Regions from separate parts of the Homo sapiens genome. Here region 2 is linked to region 1. Evidence: fine-mapped expression QTL. A gene starts in region 1. The other region holds a variant in brackets. All regions are shown on one strand. Distances are between the middles of the regions.

The links. PIP is the estimated chance that this variant, and not a neighbour inherited with it, causes the effect.
Region 2: its variant is the best candidate, but not a certain one, in a credible set for the expression of CIP2A in whole blood (INTERVAL, PIP 0.82).

Annotation. Positions count from the first base shown.
Region 1 is chr3:108,587,046-108,591,446 of GRCh38, reverse strand. It overlaps CIP2A (cellular inhibitor of PP2A), which reads left to right and starts at 2,009. Exons shown (of 21, transcript NM_020890.3): 1 at 2,009-2,173. The coding sequence starts at 2,072. DZIP3 (DAZ interacting zinc finger protein 3) reads right to left here and starts at 1,725. Exons shown (of 33, transcript NM_014648.4): 1 at 1,608-1,725. RefSeq lists an enhancer at 1,531-1,810.
Region 2 is chr3:108,612,016-108,616,416 of GRCh38, reverse strand. The region is part of intron 4 of DZIP3 (DAZ interacting zinc finger protein 3); the gene reads right to left. Among named protein-coding and RNA genes, the nearest start is that of DZIP3, 24 kb to the right of the region's middle. The variant T/C (reference allele first, on the strand shown) is at 2,601.

The DNA.
Region 1 (4,401 bases):
CTGGGCCTCTGAATGGGGACGATGCTGACACATCATCACAGATGAAAAGTCCAACACTATCAAACTCTGATCACTTCATTTGCCAATGAGGCACTGACTGTAACACTGAGAACTTAATTATGCCAGATGACAGCTGACACTTTACATTAATTCATTTTTTAACCATCTCCAAGACCGTATAGGACCTCATCTCTACTCCTCTCCTCCTCGTTCTTTCTACACTAGCCACATGGCATCCTTGTTTCTGGCATACAGTATCCCACTTTAGGGTCTTTCTTTGCCATTTCCTCTATCTAAAAACCTTTTCCCATAGAATATGGCTCCCTTTCTCAACTCCTTGAAGCATTTCCCCAAATGTTGCTTTCTTAATGAGGTCACCTTCCCATTTCCCTTATCAATTACCAACATTATTCTAGAGTAATAACGTCTATTTTTCTCTTTATATCATTTTCCTTACTTATTTATTGTGTTTATTATTTGGTTCCCTACCAAAATGTAAGTTGCATGCCAGTAGTATTTTTGTTTTTTTCACTGAGTCTATTGTGTCTAGAAAAGTGCTTAGCACATTGTAGATTCTCAATGAACTACTTATTGAATGAACAGTCCTATGAACCAGGTATCTCCCTTGGCCAGATTTTACCTAATGAAGATTCTGCAGCAGTGAGAACTTGCCTAGAGTCACATCGTCAAAGGTGGAGCTAGAATCTGTAAGCAACCTGGCTCTCTACTCTTTACCACTGCTGCATGTTACTGCATGGTGCCTCTCATTTATGTGGTGAATTTCAAAAGTACTATTTTGTATGTTTCCCTTACTAGACAGTTCCCTCGCAGCAGGGGATACTACTTCATCTCTGTTCCCTGACTGGCAGTTTCTAACCCATGTTACACGCTCTATAATTGTTTACGGAATGAATGAAAGCATAAATGAACACACAAGCTACCCAAAGATTTTTACATGAATGTCCCAACTGGTTAAATCATTTTTATCTTTCAGATTTAAACTTTTATAAAAAACAAAACCAAAACACCAAACCTGTCTTCAAAAATCTAGTAATTCAAAAAAATTCTTTTGAAGTGAAAAAACATGATTTCTGATAAACGATTTAATTAAATGGAAATGTACCCTATTCTTACAATTTCTACATCCTGGTTTTTAAAGCTTTATTCGACGTTAGGAAATATTAAGCAAAAAGCTCCAAAACCAGTAACTGACTCGCTTCATTACATACACATGCAATAATATTAAGCTATCTCCGATTTAAAAAACGCAAATAATAGTGCCATTTTCGTAGACATCGAGAATTATAAAACAATCAATCATGCCAGAGAGAAACAGACACCTTCACTTACAAAAACTGACGCTAACGAGTAACACCCTCCGGAGCAATACCTGGCCCAGGGTCAGCAGGAGGTAGTCTTCTCGAATAAATGTGACAAATACTTTGGTCAGGGCATGACTAATTTGCCACATAATGCCAATAGGTTGACTCTGAGAAACTACCATCCCCGGGCAGAAGGGGCGGGTGTAGGAGAGATTTAAAAACGAGGCCCCTCCCAGGCCGCCTCAAAATCTAGGGCCCAAGATTCTTCTCCTCAGAGCTCCTCACCGTGTCTAGACTAGGGGCAAGCGACCATTTCTCAGGTAGAGGATGACGCACAAACGAAAAACTGGCCATCCAACATGAAGGACGAGGAAGCGCACGAAATCAGAGCGCACAGCTGAGTGAGGAATCCCCCTTCTCCTAACCGATTCCTCTCCCGAGAAATCGCGAGATTTCTCGCCTTCACGGGATCTCAGGCCGAAACCTCGCGGCCTCTCAGACGAGGGTGGGTTAGCGGGGGCAGCTCCCAACCCCCGTCCTGGACCCACAAATCACCTCGACCCCTGGCCCACCCCGGCCGTCACCGAGAACGGTCCCCTAGGGTGCCTAGGGACTTCCGGAGCCCGACCGGATCCGGAAGCTTCTGAGAGCGAGGGGGTGGGGCCGAAAATCAAAAAAAGCGCGGCGAAAGCTAAAGGCCGGCGCACGCTGGGCGGTGGTGGTCCCTAAGCCGGGCCGCGGCCGGTGCAATGGACTCCACTGCCTGCTTGAAGTCCTTGCTCCTGACTGTCAGTCAGTACAAAGCCGTGAAGTCAGAGGCGAACGCCACTCAGCTTTTGCGGCACTTGGAGGTGAGAGGCTCTGGGGTAGAGGACAGATGGGGCTTCCCCTAGCAATTCTTATTTCACAGTGAGGCCGAGGAGTGGCGGCCCCAGCCTGGGAAAGAAAGGACAGTCCTTCGATCCCTCTGTTGTCTTTTCGTACTGGTAAAGGCTAGTGAGTGTCGGGGTTCCGCTGGCCGCAGCGAGAGGCAAGAGCGCTCACTGAAGGCTCTAGGAAAAGCGGGAGTGGGGCAAAAGGTTGGGAAGTTCAGGTTGTTTCGAGTAGGTAACGGAAAAAGCTCGGAACTTTATCTTTTCCTTTGCTTCTAGTTTTGGTTTTTCTACGAAACCAAGCCCTCAATACACAACTATTCTCAGTGACGGAAAGTCATGATTAAAACTTGGTTTTGCCCTTCGGTAATCTATAATTGAATTTGTTGCTTACTGCTCTTACTTGAACTCGGGTTGAACTCAAACTTGAAAAACATTATTTCAACATTAAGAAGCACTTCCCCTTCCTAGTAAGCGTAATCCTTTTTCTTTACCAAAATACATTGCTTACAGTTTTTTAATCTTAGAATGCTGAATTGCCTTTTTTTCTATTCTAGTGATATGTGTCCAGACGATTCCGTTTGTTTTAGGATCTTAATCTTCTGCTTTCATTTGTTTTGCATTTACGGAATTCAAACTAACATTGACCTCAGTTTAATTTTTTTAAAGCTCAATTAAGGCTTATTTTAACTCTCTGTGTCACAGCTTTCCTCTGTTAAGGTAGAATTGAACATAATTTTAAAATATATTGTATTATATTAACCCTATGATAAAAGACTAATGTGCCAAAAATTTGTAAAATATTACAGGAAAAAAATGATTTCCAGTAGTAGAGCAACAGCAGCTGTTAGTGAAGCTGCTGTTGTATTAAATGTGTCTGTCTTATCTTGAGCTTCACTGGTGCTCCTCTTTTCCCTACTTCAAGTGCCCATCTCCTAAGTACATTTGTTTTCTCTTTTTCATTCTTTATTTTAAGAAGTGCCTGCAAACCTAATAATTAAGGTGTTAGCTGTTAAATGCTTAAGGCTTTGCTTCTGAATTAGCATAGGCTCCAGAAGCCGCAGAATAAGCAGGGCAGTCCGTTTAATTTAAAAATCGGGAGTTAAGCATTTTGTATGCTATTCTGAAGCATTACCTTTCTTTGAATAAACAGGAAGGTTGTGCACTGAAAGAGATTTAAGGCACAGGGGCTTACACCTGTAATCCCAGCACTTTGGGAGGCCGAGGCGAGCGGATCACCTGAGGTCGGGAGTTTGAGACCAGCCTGACCAACATGCGAAACCCCGTCTCTACTAAAAATACAAAAATTACCTGGGCGTGGCGTCTCTCTGTTGTCCCAGCTACTCGGGAGGCTGAGGCTGGAGAATCGCTTGAACTCGGGAGGCTGAGGTTGCATAAGTAGAGATCGCTCCACTGCACTCCAACATGGGTGACAGAGTGAGACTCCGTCTCAAAAACAAAACAAAAAAAAAGAGAGACTTAAACAAAATATGGGATGGGGTCTTTACTGTATTCCTAAACTTTCAAGGGGTTTACATAAAACTCTTCTACCGTTGTTGCAAAGGTATGAAGAGCACTGGCTTCAGGTTACTACTAAAAAGGACTTTTTGTAATTAAGAGATAAAATACATACAGAGCATAAAGTGCATTAATCTTAAGTGAAGAGTTTGATAGTTTTTAATATATAGGTACCATAGCTACCATATTGGTAGCTAACATATAGGTAGAGTAGCTACCACCTGTATCATGATACAGAACATTTCTAGCCCCATAGGGTTTCTTCATTGCCTCTTCACATAAGGTTTGGGTAAGTAGACTCATACAATATGTACTCTTGTGTCTGGCCTTTTCCACTCAATAAAATCTGTGAAATTCATGTTGCACATGTACCGCTACTTCATTTTTTTTATTATTGATGTGTAGAATTCTATTGTATAAGTGTACCACAGTTTACATACACTTTCCTGTTGATAGGCATTTGGGTTGTTTACATTTCTGGGTGGAATTAAGAATAAAGCTGTTGTAGACATACATTTTTTGTGGATATATGCACACATTTATATACTTAGGAGTAGAATTGTTAGAGCATTGGAACATATGCCTATATGTTCCGTTTTAGTTGAAACTGCCAAACAATTTTCTGAAATATGCCATTTTATCTTCCCACTAGCAATATGTGAAATTTACCATCACTTATCCACACCAAC
Region 2 (4,401 bases), 25 kb before region 1:
AAAAAAAAAATCCATACCAACCAGATACACTGTTCTCATATGTTTGCTTTTAAGTAGTCCGATGAATGTCGTTTGTAACTATTTCCTTAAAACAATTTTAAATTTTATTTTATTTATTTATTTATTTATTTATTTATTTATTTATTTATTTTTGAGATGGAGTCTCGCTCTGTCGCCCTGGCTGGAGTTCACTGGCGCAATCTCAGCTCACTGCAAGCTCCGCCTCCCGTGTTCACACCATTCTCCTGCCTCAGCCTCCTGAGTATCTGGGACTACAGACACCCACCACCACACCTGGCTAATTTTTTGTATTTTTAGTAGAGATGGGGTTTCACCATTTTAGCTAGGATGGTCTTGGTCTCCTGACCTCGTGATCCGCCTGCCTTGGCCTCCTAAAGTGCTGGGATTACAGGCGTGAGCCACTGCGCCCAGCCTCTTTAAAACATTTTTTAAAAAGGCATTCCTATACCTGCCAAAGGGTTGGCAACATCCACACCTACTTCAGAGGAAAATGGTAATCCCAGTTCACTCTCATACCTTCTATTGTGTGACATAGCTAAAATATTCCAGCCCTGAACCTGTGGTAAACAGGAATGCTGGCATTAATACCAATACAAGGGTAAACCATTTTATGCTGCAATCTGATTGCAACTGAGCTAATGCATGCTTTATTATGTACTATAGTTTATTTACATGGTTGAAATGAAAGGTAGGACTATGTCTTTGTGTCCATTCCCCAATGTTTTCTACCCACAACGGCTTGGTTTATATTACATAATCTGTTTAATAATGTATAATCTGCATGGAAAATTTAATCTACACTTCCATAACTTGGTTTCCATATATAACATTTTCCTGTTTTTTTCCTAGCTGACTAGATACTTTATTTCAGTCTCCCTAGCAATCAATTTAATGAGCCTCTTCTCTATCAATACATGTTCTCTAGGTAAAGTAACCCAGTATCATAATTTTAAATAGTGTCTACATACTGACAGTTTCCAAATTTACATTTCTAGCCAAGAACTTCACCTACATTCCAAGCTCAAACAATATCTCTTGAATTTGAATAGAAATACAAAACATAATACTGAAGTTCCACCTCTGTCAAACAGCCTAGGTGGTTTCAAATCAGTCTCCCAATGAGAATAACTAAAACAACGGGACAAGATATAAAAACTAATTATCTGAAAGCAATGGAAAACTACTAACACAATGAAAATAAAAACCTCTGAAAGGCAATCTCTGGAGAGCTGACTTTTGACTGACTTTTGGAGCTACTTTTCTCATTAAAGTAATTGCCATATTCAGTTGTGGCACAGCCTTCAGCAGATTTGCAAGGCTTGGGGGAAAATTGGAGTGCATGGTCTATAAGGAGGAGCAGCCCTGGTAAACAGCCCATTCTTTTCATTGAGGCCCTGTTTTTGTTCCAATGGAAGCAGACCATAATTAAAGGATTTCAATGGAAATAGTTTATTTGGGAGGTACAGAGACAATGGTAGGAAAGTGGAGAAGTAATAAAGTGAAGGAAAAGTAGGTTTTAATTAAAGGATGTGTTATTATGCTAGTTACCCATGGTGGGCCACTGCGGTTATCACAACGGGGAAATTTTGGAAAACTCAAAAATACAAACCTCAGTATTAACCAACTCAAGGGAAGAGGCAACTGGGATATTCATATAATAACTCCCAAGACCTACTGATTGAGTGCTTTCTGGGGTGATGGGGGAATATTAATTCCTTGGGTCTTCTGAGCTGCCATGAGAAGTAGCTTTCTCCTGTTCTAGAAAAAAAGGCCCTGAGGCATAGAGATATAGACATGGAAAACTAGAATTGTCCAGAGCATACTGAAAATATAGGTAGGGTCCAATTGGTATGGGGGGGCAATGACAGAATCTGCTACAAAAGGTAGAGAAACTGACCCTTCCTCAAAAGAACTAAGTAAAGGTTGGAATCATTTCTATCCCAGGTTGAATTAAATAATTTACTAGAAAAGCAAAAATAAGAATTACTAGAAAAAAATGTGTCCAGTTTTTCAAGTTCTTCACAGAGGCAGGTTGCTATGAGACAAACCAGGTAGCTACTCCAAGTAGCAGAATTATCTCTATTATCTTCAATGACTACAGTATTTGTATTTATGTTTTCATGTTCATTCATGATTTTGGATATTTTTGCTTTCGGTTTTGGACATACTTATTACGCATTTGTCAATTTGATTGGTCTTTCCAAAAAAGCAAGTTTTGGATTTATTGATCCTTTCTATTTTATGTTTTAAATAGATTTCATTAGTTTTAACTATCCTTATTACTTCCTTTTCAAGTGCTTTTAATTTGCTGTTCTTCCATTAACTTCTTGAATGTCATGCTTAGATAACTGATATTCAACCTTGCTTCTTTTTCTAATATTTACATCTCAAGCTATAAATTCTCCTTGAAGCACAGCTTTATCTAATAACACAAGATTTGATATATATTTTTATTCAGTTCAAAAATGTATCTAACTTCTATTGTGATTTCTTCTTTGGCCAATTGGTTACCTAGATTAGAGGTATATATCTTACCTTATGAACATACGGTTTTCTAGATTATCTCTTTTATTGATTTC[T/C]AGATTAACTGAAGAGTAGTTAGAGAACATACTCTGTATATTTTGATACTCTGAAATCTGATGGGGCTTGCTTTGTGACCTAGCATATGGCCAATTTTTGTAAATGTTCTGTGTGCACTTAAAAGAATGCATAATCTGCCACTGTTGGGTGCAGTGTTTATACATGTGTGTCTCAATTAGAGCAAGTCTGCTGTAGGTCTACTAATTCTGTGTCCATGTTATATCAGTTATAAGAGAAGTATGTTAAAATATCCCACTGGGATTGATTTGTCTTTTTCCTTTAGTATTATCTATTTTTATCATCTTATCATTCATAAAGGTTCTGTATATATTTGGTCCTACTTCTGGAACTTATCTTCTATTTTCTAGATATGTCTGAGGTATAAAGAACAAGTAACACAATCTTTTAGTTATTAGAGCTTCATAACAACTTTTAATGTTTAAGTGGGCAAATTCCCAGCCCTACTCCTTCATACTTTTCTTAAATAATTTTCTTGGCTATTTTTCCTCTTATTTCCCATGTGAACTTTAGACTTAGCATTTAGCGACACTAACCAAAAAAATCCCATTATTTTAGTGGAATCATGCGATATTTGTGGATTTTAATTTATAGAAAATTGACTGCTTTAACATACTGCGTCTTCCTACATGTACTATTCCATTCAGGTCCTCATTTCTTACCTTTAATAGAGTTTTAGAAAGTTTTACTTATTGTTTTAATATGCAGTATTGATTTCTAAATTTAATGTGAGTACAATCAGTGCTTAGGTACTTACTAAAACACAAATTCAAAGACCTATCCCCAGAGATTTTGATTCTTTAGAACTGGTACAGGGGTCAGATATTCTCATGTAAGTGGTTTAGAACAAGCTTAAAGAAATACTAGTTTATCTTGTACATTTCTTAAGTATTTTACTCAGTATTTTACTTTTGTTATCATTATAAATAAGTACAGTTTGCCCTCCATATCCACAGGTTTTGCCTCCATGGATTCAACCCACCATGGATTGAAAATATTTGATAAATAAATAAATAAATAGAAAGAATACAATAATTTTAAAAAATTGAAAAGACAATACAGTATAACAACTATTTACATAGCATTTACATTGTATTAGATATGTAATACCTAGATGTAATCTAGAGATGGTGTAACACATACGGGAGAATGTGTACAGGTTGTATGCAAATACTATGTCATTTTACATAAGAGACTTGGGCATCCTTGGATTTTTGTACCGGGGGTGTCCTGGAATTAACCTCCCACAGATACCAAAAGATGACTGTACTATTCTTCTATTTTTACCTTCTAGTTGCTATTTTTTGCATATCTGAAGGCCACTGATTTCTGTCTTGTTGTTTCTAAGTGATTTCCAAAAGATAAGAGGGAAATGGTAGCATTATTCTATCAATTTCTAGCCAGAATTCACTTATACTGTGGTAAATTATCTCGGTTAAGGTTATAATTGTGCATAAAGTCTTATGAATATCTTCAGTTTGTTGGAATTTTTAATCATAATAGTATTAATGTGTTTCATGGAAATAACCATATATTCTTTCATAGAAAGACAAATGTAGCCTTCTCAAGACAACTATGGTGCTTTACCCTTCTCTTCTCTAGTTAATTGCCACAAAGAAAAGAGTATATAATTTTCTTTAACTTCAGAAAACTCCATTAAGAAATGGTATCTTTCTTATGCTGAAAGTTACCACAAATTATACAGAAAAACTACTTTCAAGATGGAAATCTACAATATAGCTTCCAGAATATTTATTATACAAATAATTCCAAATATTTGGA